Homo sapiens: one gene and its partners. The protein of the gene in region 1 purifies or fractionates together with the protein of each later gene. This does not show direct contact. Each region holds a gene or a part of one and is shown on either strand. Other genes may lie near its edges. The genes, in order: GCGR, DYM and SLC25A35.

The links.
Region 2: the proteins of GCGR (region 1) and DYM purify together in Homo sapiens (affinity purification with mass spectrometry; one large-scale study listed by BioGRID and IntAct). This does not show direct contact.
Region 3: the proteins of GCGR (region 1) and SLC25A35 purify together in Homo sapiens (affinity purification with mass spectrometry; one large-scale study listed by BioGRID and IntAct). This does not show direct contact.

What each region holds. Positions count from the first base shown.
Region 1 is NC_000017.11:81,810,503-81,814,149, reverse strand, and holds the end of GCGR (glucagon receptor precursor), read right to left. Parts: intron 3,326-3,647; coding exon 3,218-3,325; intron 3,141-3,217; coding exon 3,019-3,140; intron 2,929-3,018; coding exon 2,822-2,928; intron 2,747-2,821; coding exon 2,590-2,746; intron 2,500-2,589; coding exon 2,340-2,499; intron 2,265-2,339; coding exon 2,204-2,264; intron 1,968-2,203; coding exon 1,898-1,967; intron 1,574-1,897; coding exon 1,485-1,573; intron 1,344-1,484; coding exon 1,205-1,343; intron 1,135-1,204; coding exon 1,093-1,134; intron 677-1,092; coding exon 461-676; 3' UTR 142-460; downstream 1-141.
Region 2 is NC_000018.10:49,454,044-49,457,690, forward strand, and holds part of DYM (dymeclin), read right to left. Parts: intron 1-3,647. UniProt on the Homo sapiens protein: Necessary for correct organization of Golgi apparatus. Involved in bone development.
Region 3 is NC_000017.11:8,293,158-8,296,904, forward strand, and holds the start of SLC25A35 (solute carrier family 25 member 35), read right to left. Parts: upstream 2,244-3,747; 5' UTR 1,651-2,243; coding exon 1,276-1,650; intron 1-1,275. UniProt on the Homo sapiens protein: Putative antiporter that exchanges dicarboxylates and sulfur oxoanions across the inner membrane of mitochondria.

The DNA of each region.
Region 1 (3,647 bases):
GTTCCAGTGCCAACTCTGAGTGAACTGGGACAGCAGGGGGACCCTTCAACAGCCCGCACTGGCGCTGACCACCCACCGCTGTTCCATCCCCCACTGCTTCGGCCCCAGCATTTCCAGCCCTGCTTTCCAGGACATGCACGGTGACCACTTGAGCTCTTTATTGTTGGAGGACATTTCCATGCACATGGGACGTGCCGACATACGTGGGGACACTGGCACGCAGTTCACGGCACAGCCCCCACTCCCGCCCTGGACTCCTCTGCTCACCTCTGCACCAGGGACAAGGCAGGTGCAGGGAGAGGAGGCCCAATCTCGCAGACAGCCACACTGGGGGTGGGGGGTAGGTGGGGGCTGCTGTTGGCTCCCCCGCCCCCAGCCTCAGCTGGGCGTCCAGTTCTGGGTTGTCCAGCGACGCCCTCTGGGTGCCAGAGTCCAGCCCTAGCTGGGGTCCCAGCAGGGTTCAGAAGGGGCTCTCAGCCAATCTAGGGAGGCCACCAGCCAAGGGGGTCTCCGCAGATGAATCCTGGCTGCCACCACCCCTCCCAAACTGCAGCTCCTTGCTGGGAGGGCCGTGGCCGGGCGAAGATGAGGCCCTGTGGTTGCTGGTGTTCCGCTCCTCCCATAGCACTTTGCCCAGGCGCCAGCGGTGCCAACGCCGCCGCAGCTCCGACTGCACCTGGGGAGGGGGACGGGGCAGGCCAGTCCTAGGGCCTGCCTGTCCTCTCCACCCCACCGGGACCTGCTGTGGGCCTCATCGGAGATGCCCAGTCTCCGCTCTGAGGGGTGCAGAGCGACACAAGCTCCCTGCTGGGCACAGCTATGCCACCCAGCATCGCCACGGAAAGCAGTCTGCAGACACCTGGGGACCCCCACGGTGGACACCGTAGCGATGGGGCTGAGGCCAACCTGTCCTGGGGGCCTGACACCCAGCGCCATGGCAACTGCACCCAATAAGAGCAGGGGGAGGGAAAGGCTTGGGCCCCACGTGTTCCAACCCCCGGGCAGGGGTGGGGCTGGCATCCCTGTGCCTCTCTCTGCCCCTGACCCCGACGGCCAGTGCTGATGGTCTCAGATGCCCCCACTCCCACCTACCTCCTTGTTGAGGAAGCAGTAGAGGACAGCCACCAGCAGGCCCTGGAGAGACAGGGTGGTCAGGGGTGGCACACTGCGCCCCGGGCGGGGGAGCCGGCGGGCGGGCGGGCACCTGGAAGGAGCTGAGGAAGAGGTCGAAGAAGAGCTTGGCGGAGCGCAGGGTGCCCTGGGCGTGCTCGTCCGTCACGAAGGCGAAGACCACTTCGTGGACGCCCAGCAGAGGGATGAGGGTCAGCGTGGACTTGGCCAGCCTGCAGAGGCAGCGCCTGAGTCACCCACCGCCCCCACCCTCGGCCCGCACCATCCACGTGGAGCTTGGAGTCCCCACCCCCAGCTGCCCTCTGGCCCTGAGGGTCTCCAGGTCTCGAGACGCCAGCTGCCGCGGCACCCACCGGAACTTGTAGTCTGTGTGGTGCATCTGCCGTGCCCGCAGCTTGGCCACGAGCAGCTGAACGATGCGGACGAAGATGAAGAAGTTGATCTGTGTGAGAAGGGTGCGAGTCAGGGGCATCCCGAGCCCCAGGGAACAGCTCTGTGCCCTTGGAAGGCCCCACCTGACCCTCCTGCAGGTGGGCCTGGCAGCAAGATAGGCCCTGGGCCACATAGCCCTGGGGCTGGTGGGCACACAGCCAGGGAGGAACAGCCTGGCTCAGTGTCCAGGGTGCTGGCCAGTGTCCTGGTGTCCTGTCTGGGTGCCGGCTCCCTCCCAGCGCTCTCAGACAGGATGCTGCTGTCTCCTGGGGCAGCCTCAGGACGCCAAGGGAGGAGGGGCCTGGGGTGCGCTCCTGGCTCTTCATTTCCTCACCAGGATGGCCAGGAAGACGGGGAACCGCAGGATCCACCAGAAGCCCATGTTGTCATTGCTGGTCCAGCACCTGCGAGGCCAGGCCACTCACATACTGGGGCACAGCCCCCAGCCCCTCCGCCCCTCAGCACCCCCGTCCCGATTTTGCCAGGATCTAATTCGGGTCTCAGAAAAGGAAGGGAGAAGGTCACAAATGACCCCCTCCCCAGGCACCAGGCTCATCCCCGGCCCCTCCCTGCCTCAGGCCAGAGCGCCGCACCCCAGCCCCCCGGTCCCTCCCCAGGCTGTCCAGCCGCTCATACTCACTGGACGTTCTCGAACAGACACTTGACCACTGCCCAGGGGACGACGAACAGCATGGGGGCACCTGTGGGGGGCAGCAGCTGTGGTCCCAAAGGCTTGGTCAGCCTGCCTTAACCCCCTCTCATGCCAGCCCACTCACCCCAGCCGATGCCCAGGTAGAGGCTGAAGAAGCTCCTCTCGGGGAGGGTGGCCAGGCCCAGCAGGTTGTGCAGGTACAGGCCCTCCACCAGCAGCCAGCAGTAGTTGGCCACGATGCCATATTGCATGAACACCGCGGCCACACGGCAGCCAGCCACCGCCTGGTACAGGTGCAGTGTGAGCGCGGCTACGTGGCCACCTGCCTGGCTGCCCACCCACCCACCTGCCTGGGGCCGCCGAGGGGGGCTCACTCCATCACTGAGCCAGGTGCTGACACTGAGGTCGTCGCCAATTTTCTGGCTGTAGCGGGTCCTGAGCAGCCCATCAATGACCAGCACGGAGCTGGCTTTCAGCACGAAGGACGCAAACAGATTCGCGTGGATGGCATTGCGGGTGCAGTGCAGCTTGCTGTGGGCACAGCCAGTCAGCGCCCGTCCTCCTCCCTGTCCTCTGCGGCCGCCCCGGGCGCTGGCGGAATCCTACCTGAGGCCCCCCAGGATGGCCAAGGCGAGGAGCAGGGCCCCCAGGGACAGGCTGTAGCCCACTGTGTACATCACCTGGAAGCTGCTGTACATCTTGGCCACCTCCTTCTGCGAGTTACAGTGGCCTGTGAGGGCCAGGCAGGGGCCCCCATGCCCGTTCCCATCCAGCCCCACCGCGCCTGCCTGCCGCCCACTGACCTGGACCTCAATCTCCTCGCCATCCATCTGGCACTGGGAGGCATCACGCCAAGGCTGCCCCCGGGGTCCACGCACCCACTGACCGTCGGGCCCGCATCTCTTGAACACGAAGCGGTGTTGCACTGGGGGTGTGGGGGGAGGCTGGGGTCAGCCCCACCCTGGGCCCGCCCCCCCCACAGTTCCTCCCCTCTATGGGTACCTTTGTGGTGCCAAGGCAGGTACCAGGGGCAGGAGATGTTGGCCGTGGTATTGGCGGGGGTGTCCGGCCAGCAGGAATACTTGTCGAAGGTTCTGTTGCACACCAGCTCTGCAGGGTAGGGTAGGGCAGGGCAGAGCAGGGCAGGGCAGGGTGGGAGAAGGGGCTCCCTCAGCAGGCCTCTCTCCTCTCTCTGGAAGCCTGAGCTCGGCCGTCACCTCGCCCAGGACATGGCCTGGGCTGCTCCCTCCCCCACTTGACCTCCACCTCCCCCATCTGACCTCCACCTTCCTCACCTGACCATCCACCTCCCCTGGACCAGCCTCCGCTAGCACGCCCAGCCCAGCCCTGAATTGCAGCTCTGCAGGACACCTTCCCTTGGAGACCCCCCATCTCAAATGTGCCCCAAACCCACACTGGGGTCCCCCATTCT
Region 2 (3,647 bases), on another chromosome or scaffold:
TGATGCTGCAGACAGAACCACACACGGACATGCCTTTCTTCCAAGGACCCTTAGATTGACCCCAGGAGGAGCCCTAGCTGCTGATCCCCACATGATGCCCCTTTTCAGCAGGAAGTAGCCAGAAAGAGTCATCACCCAACACCCCCTAACAGCAGTTAGGGTTGCCACTCCAGAGCAGGGAATGATGATATAGGAGTTAACAAGGAATTACTTAGGCAGATAGCAAGGGCATGGGAGTCCTCAGTAAGGCTGTTCTTTTTAATGAAAAGCAGCCCCAAATCATTTTCTAACAAAGAGCAGCCTGCAAGCTGGGAGCTTGCACACGATAATGCCTGCAGAAACTAAGGACTAGACATTTTCAAAATGGCGGCTCCATCTTCCCTTCTCTGCCAGCCACATGTACTGTAAAGGAGCAGACAGGATGGTGCCAATCAACTGGAAAGCCCATTTGCATAAGATTAGGTTGAGGCAACCAGCCTTCCCCACACACTCTGTAGACGTCATGCATGATCGAACCAATCTGTGAGCCCTATGTAAATCAGACACTGCCTTCTCCATATAAAAATCTGCTGCAGGCCGGGTGCGGTGGCTCAGGCCTGTAATCCCAACACTTTGGGAGGCCGAGGCCGGTGGATCACGAGGTCAGGAGATCGAGACCATCCTGGCTAACACAGTGAAACCCCGTCTCTACTAAAAATACCAAAAAAAAAAAAAATTAGCCAGGCATTGTGGCCGGCGCCTGTAGTCCCAGCTACTCAGGAGGCTGAGGCAGGAGAATGGCGTAGACCCAGGAGGCAGAGTTTGCAGTGAGCCGAGATCGCGCCACTGCACTCCAGCCTGGGTGATAGAGCGAGACTCTGTCTCAAAAAAAAAAAAAAAAAAAAAAAATCTGCTGCGGTCCATGGCCTCCTCCTTTTTTGGACCTCTCTCTCTCTCTCTCAAGGAGCTGCTCTCCTCTCTCCTTTCTTCTATTAGACTTTCCACTCCTTAACCCACAAAAAAATAAAAATAATAAAGAAAAGGCCAGAAAGTAAGCTGAGGCTTGACGCTTTACAGAGAGACTCACTAAAGGGCATGCCTTCTTACTCCGCACATAGTAACCGTACAACTGCATACATCCTCCCTAAGACTTCCAGATTGATGAATTCTACCCCTATACACTTACAATCCAAAATATCTATGTCTAGTCAGAACTGTCTTTTGAGTGTCAGTCCCGTTTATCTAACTGCCTAACATCTATCACCATCTGATGTCCCAAGGGCACCTCAAACTCCACATGCTCAATACTGAACTGAATATACATCCTTCTCCTTGTCCATCTCTAATTCTCATCTTTTTACACCACTCATTCAGATATCCAAGTCGAGAAATCTAAAGGAAGAGAATGAAAAACAACTAATAGTTATAGTGTATATATTGCTAGGTACATAGAGGTATTTTCATTTAATTCTCTAACAAACATATAAAGTATATATTAGTCCCATTATACAGATAAGAAAACTGAAGTTCAAAAAGGTTGAGTAACATGCCAAAGCAAATAAATGATAGAACTAGGACTCAAACCTAGAGTTTCAAAAAGTATGTAGGTTAGTCTGGGTTCAGAGAAATTAATTATAAAGGAGCAGAGGCCAGGCGCAGTGGCTCCTGTCTGTAATCCCAGCACTTTGGGAGGCCGAGGTGGGTGGATCACCTGAGGTCAGGAGTTCGAGACAGCCTGGGCAAAATGGTGAAAACTCTACTAAAAACAGTACAAAAATTAGCCGGGCATGGTGGCGCATGCCTGTAATCCCAGCTATTCAGGAGGCTGAGGCAGGAGAATCACTTGAACCTGGGAGGCAGAGGTTGCAGTGAGCCGAGATCCCACCACTGCACTCCAGCCTGAGCAACAGAGTCAGACTGTCTCAAAAAAAAAAAAGCAAAAAATGCTAATTCCCTACCCAATCTCCAGTCCTCTCTTCCTTTTAGTAACAGAACTCCATTTTTTTGACCAGGCATATTCCTGTTCAACTAAGATATATTTAAGTCTCTAAGAGTGGACAGTCACTTCTTTATCCCTTCCTCCATCCTGCTGTTAGGAACATGGAAATTTTAGCTAGAACTCCAGCAGCCATCTTGGACCCAGAAATCAAGGGCCATACTTTAGGGTTAACAGTGTAAGAAACTACAAGGAGGCTGGGTTCCTGATGACAGCAGAGCTGCCAAACCAGCCTTTAATCGTCCACCTCTGGACTTCTTTTACAAAAGAAACAAACTAGTCATATGTTTAAGCTATTATTTTTCAGGTCTCTGTTATTCATAGCCAAACCTAAGCCTAACTGATACAGGTAGGGTTTTCAAAGTATTCTGGGTGGAGGGTTGCATGACATATTTTGAAGGAATAATTGTCAAGATTCAGTGACTGACTCAACCTAACAAAGAAATTTGTCATCGATCATATGATGGACAAAAGGTTTTAAATGCCCAAAAGACTGAGCAATAAAAGAAAAGATAAGCTTTTTAAAAATAATTATTCCAATGTCCTTATTGGAAAGTTTCAGCCACTTTCATTGCCTGCATTTTTAAAGAATGTGATAAAAATCAGAGAAGATACCAAAATCACTAACCAAACTTCCTTAAGAAATGAAAAAAACAAAAACTTTTACTAAATAAGACCTATATGTAAAGTTGTTCCCAGCCCCACTAGTTCATTTTGTCTAGAATTAAGTAATGTGAGGATAACTTACAAACTGTTTACAAGCAAAGTTCAAAGCATAAAGCTCTGCTAAAAACCTTACTAGAAAAAAAAATGCTTAAAGGCAAGAGCAGATATTTAATAAGTCCCATCACATTTCCTGATAAATGGTGCACCACCACCAGAAAGCCAGAACCTTCACACCTAGAGACAGTAAGGACTTTGACAGCTAAGTAGGAAAGTGAAACCCACTAGGAAACAGGATACCAAACTGGAGGACTCCCAGAAATCCTTTCAATCTTTAAGATTAGTCCTCTCTCTGTCCGAAGAAAGGAAAAGCAGCAATGGGCATCTTATCACTCTGCTCTTCTAGGCTCACAGCACTCTACCATTCCCAGCTGAGTCACAGAAGAACCTGAGAAGAGGCTGCTTCAAGTCCAAATCTCACAGTAGTTCATTCTGCCTGAAGATATTCTCTCACTTTCATTAGGAGTCTTCTTTTGCTGCTGAAATGGGGGTGCCTTTATCTCCCACTTGGACAGAGAGTCCCTGCCTTCTCATCCTGGGCATGGGAACCATCATTGCCCCCAGCGTGTCCTGTGTCAAGTATCAGGTTAGCCCTCTGATTACACATATATACTATGTTTTAAGACATGAATATGAAAAAGAGACCAAAACGAAATATAGAAAAACTTTACATGGAGCTGTATTGCTTTTATACTTAAATCATTTTTAAAGGTCTCATTTTACCAAAGCCTATACTACAAGTGTCACAGGTATTTCCCATATTTCACTAAAAGGAAAAATGAACAGTCTTCTCTAGATCTAACCATTCCCATTATCTACAATCCTAAGTAAAAGACGGCCCTCTCGTTGCATGTACAGCAGCAAAAGAAATCACCTACTTTCTTAAGTCTCGGCAAAATATTCCAAAATACACTGTGGTAGGTAGAATAATAGCCTCCAAAGATGTCCA
Region 3 (3,747 bases), about 74 Mb from region 1:
CTAGCAATAAACAGCTGTGTGACCTTGAGTGGGTCACTTCCCCTTTCTGGGCCTCAGGCTCTTGACCCTTCACCTATACCAGATAACTCAAAGGGGCAGATGTTGAGATTGTTAATTCTGTGATGCCCAGGGCCTTCCTGATCCCTAGACTCTCTGACGTATGTTAAATTCCTTATCCTCCCCTTCACAAATCCAACCTCAATATCAACACATAATAATAAAAACAAATGCTACCAAATGCTTACTGTCTGCCAGGATTCGCACTAATGCTTTCATGTCTACCGCATTTGTCTCCCTCGATCCTCCCAATAATCACACAGAAAGGGCACTATAATTATCACCATTTTACAGATGTGGCAACTGAAGCTCAACAACTAGTAATTTTCTTTCTTTTCTTTTTTTTTTTTTTTTTGAGACGGAGTCTCTCTCTCTGGCCCAGGCTGGAGTGCAGTGGCCGGATCTCAGCTCACTGCAAGCTCCGCCTCCTGGGTTTAGGCCATTCTCCTGCCTCAGCCTCCGGAGTAGCTGGGACTACAGGCGCCCACCACCACGCCCGGCTAATTTTTTGTATTTTTAGTAGAGACGGGGTTTCACCGTGTTAGCCAGGATGGTCTCCATCTCCTGACCTCGTGATCCGCCCGCCTCGGCCTCCCAAAGTGCTGGGATTACTGGCGTGAGCCACCGCGCCCGGCCAACAACTAGTAATTTTCAAAGCCAGGATTTTAGTTCCAGAAAGTCTGATTCCAAAGCCCATAATCTTTTTTTTTTTTTTTTGTGAGACGTAGCCTTGCTCTGTGGCCCAGGCTGGAGTGCAGTGACCGGATCTCGGCTCACTGCAAGCTCCGCCTCCCGGGTTCATGCCATTCTCCTGCCTCAGCCTCCCGAGTAGCTGGGACTACAGGCGCCCACCACCGCACCCGGCTAATTTTTTGTATTTTTAGTAGAGACGGGGTTTCACTGTGTTAGCCAGGATGGTCTCCATCTCCTGACCTCGTGATCCGCCCGCCTTGGCCTCCCAAAGTGCTGGGATTACAGGTGTGAACCACTGCACCCGGCCCCAAAGCCCATAATCTTAATCAATACATTCAATCGTGTCCATCAGATGGGTGTGTATAGGGCAGATCAGAAGACTCCGAAGCCTACCAGCACTTTCCTGATGCCTTTCCCTGCTTGCAGTGGGGCAGCACTCTGCCACCTATGCCCTTGGGAAAGAACAGCTCCTATCCTACAACGAGGATCTGCCCTGAAGGTCCCAGGCAAGAGCCCTCTTCTTACCATGTAGATGGGGCTCCCCAAGTAGGCTCCCATGACCCCAGCCATGGCCCCAGCTGCTGCGCTGCGGGCAGGACTGTGGGTGCCTTCGGCTGTGTGCAGGTAGCCCCCAGCCTCAGCCAGCCCATAGGTGCCCAGTCGGATGCCATTCATCAGGAACTGGTACAAGAGGGCGGGGGCCAGGCCTTTCTGCAGGGCAGCAAGGCCATCCACCTTGCCGATGGTGATGAAGGCATGGAAGACATTTCGGTAGTGCCGCTGGTATGTGCCAGGGGCCTGCAGTTCTCCTTGCAACTGCATCCTGGTCTTCACCACCTCCAGGGGATTGGTGAATACACAGGCCCCGCAGGCTGCCAGGCCACTCATCAAGAAGTCCATGGTGGGATAGCTGTAGCAGGAACTGACCCAAGAGTAAGAAAGTAAAAATGGGTGTCAGAAAGCGGGGTTGGAAGACAGGGGGAAGGCCTGTTTCAGCAGTACAGGTTGCAGAAGATAAGAATTTAGATTTGCAGTCAAGGGTGTCAGGGTCAAATGTCAAGTGGTCAAACGTCAGCTGGAATTTGGGAGTCAAGAGCTGGCAAGCAGGGAAGAGATAGAAATCTAGGAGATTCTGGTGAGAAGCTTAAGGCAGGACCCTCTGAGGTCAAGGAGGGGCAAAAGACAGAAGGTTGCAGGTGGGATGGCTCAGGATGGCGGGCGACGGGAGCACGGGAGTAGAGGAGGGAATCGCGGGGTTGGGAGATGGAAGCCAGGGAGGCAGGAAGAAGAAAGCCAGCAAGTGAGAGAAGAAAAGGATCCGGGAGAAGAGCCGGTGATTTCCTCGAGCCAGCAACGAGATCTCGATCCGAGAAAGAAGTCAGGACTCTGGCCAGGAATGAGCGTCCCTGAGCGTCCCCAGGCAGCCACCGGAGCTCGCAGTAGCTTCAACCCCGGGTAGCCTGCGGAGGCCGGGCCGCCACACTCCTGCCACTGGAGCGCGGGGCCAATGGGGAGCCTTCAAGAGCCACAACCGAGGCCCTCAGCCAATCAGCGCCGAGCCGGCTCCGCGGCCAAAGGGAGGAGCTCTCGGCGCTCCTGTCCCCGGAATCACCCGGAGGCGGTTGGAATTAACTGTCCAGGCTCCGCCACCAGCGCTCGGCCGCCGACTCCGGCTCCGGAAGGGAGGCCCGGGACGCGGCGGTTTTGTTATTGGCAGGGAAGAGACCTGGGTTCCCGATCGAACACAGAGGCCGAGCGCAGCAGTCCCCCACTGGGGTGCTGGGACCGCCCCTCGGGTGGGCGGACGGCTTTAGCTTCCTACCCCGGGTTGTGACCGGGTGGGGTCACATAAGTTCAGGTCCACGCCCTGCTCGGTGCCGGCGCCAGGAGAGCCAGGAAGACGCGGCCCGGCTTGCGGGGGGTAGAGGGACACACTTGCGCTGCGGGACCAGTCTCCTGAGGCTGCACGGGTTGGTGCTTGGTTAATTAAATCCTTAGTCCTTAGGCTCTTTATTTTTATTTTTTATTTTTTTTGAGACGGAGTCTCGCTCTGTCGCCCAGGCTGGAGTGCAGTGGCGCGATCTTAGCTCACTGAGAGCTCCGCCTCCCGGGTTCACGCCATTCTCCTGCCTCAGCCTCCCAAGTAGCTGGGACTACAGGTGCCCGCCACCACGCCCGGCTTATTTTTTGTATTTTTAATAGAGACCACCGTGTTAGCCAGGATGGTCTCGATCTCCTGACCTCGTGATCCACCCGCCTCAGCCTCCCAAAGTGCTGGGATTACAGGCGTGAGCCACCATCCCTGGCCTGGAGTTCTTTCATATGAGATATTTGTCTCTACTCCTCCATTATTTATTCAACCATTTATTTAATCAGTATGGACTCATGGACATTTATACTTTGGGTTATAATCCAATATACTTCATATTTATTTTCTAGCTAATTTCGTTCTAGCTTTGGCCTTTGAGAGCTGTTTCCGTTGGCTCCTGTGTCTCTTTAGCATACCCCCATCCATTTTTTTTTGCACACAAAAGTTTTTAGTTTATAAATCTTGTGAAAAATCCACAGTGGCCACAGATGTTACTGTAGCATCTTTACTCCTTTGGCTTTTTGCCACACCAACACTGTCCTTTGCAGTCCCCCTTTCTTCATTCTGGTCTTGTGTTCCTTTCATTGCTTTCTTGAGTTCTTTTCTTCTCATCCAGGCCATGTCTTGGAAGTCAGCATTTGGGTTTATTTTTCTTTGCATAATCCAGTGAATCATAAATCATGCCAAAGCCAGTTGTCTTGCCACCACCAAAATGAGTTCTGAATCCAAATACAAAGATGAGGCCAGGCGTGGTGGCTCACGCCTGTAATCCCAGCACTTTGGGAGGCAGAGGCAGGCAGATCACATGAGGTCAGGAGTTTGAGACCAGCCTGGCCAACATTGTGAAACCCTGTCTCTGCTAAAACTACAAAAATTAGCCGGGTGTGGTGGCAGGCACCTGTAATCCC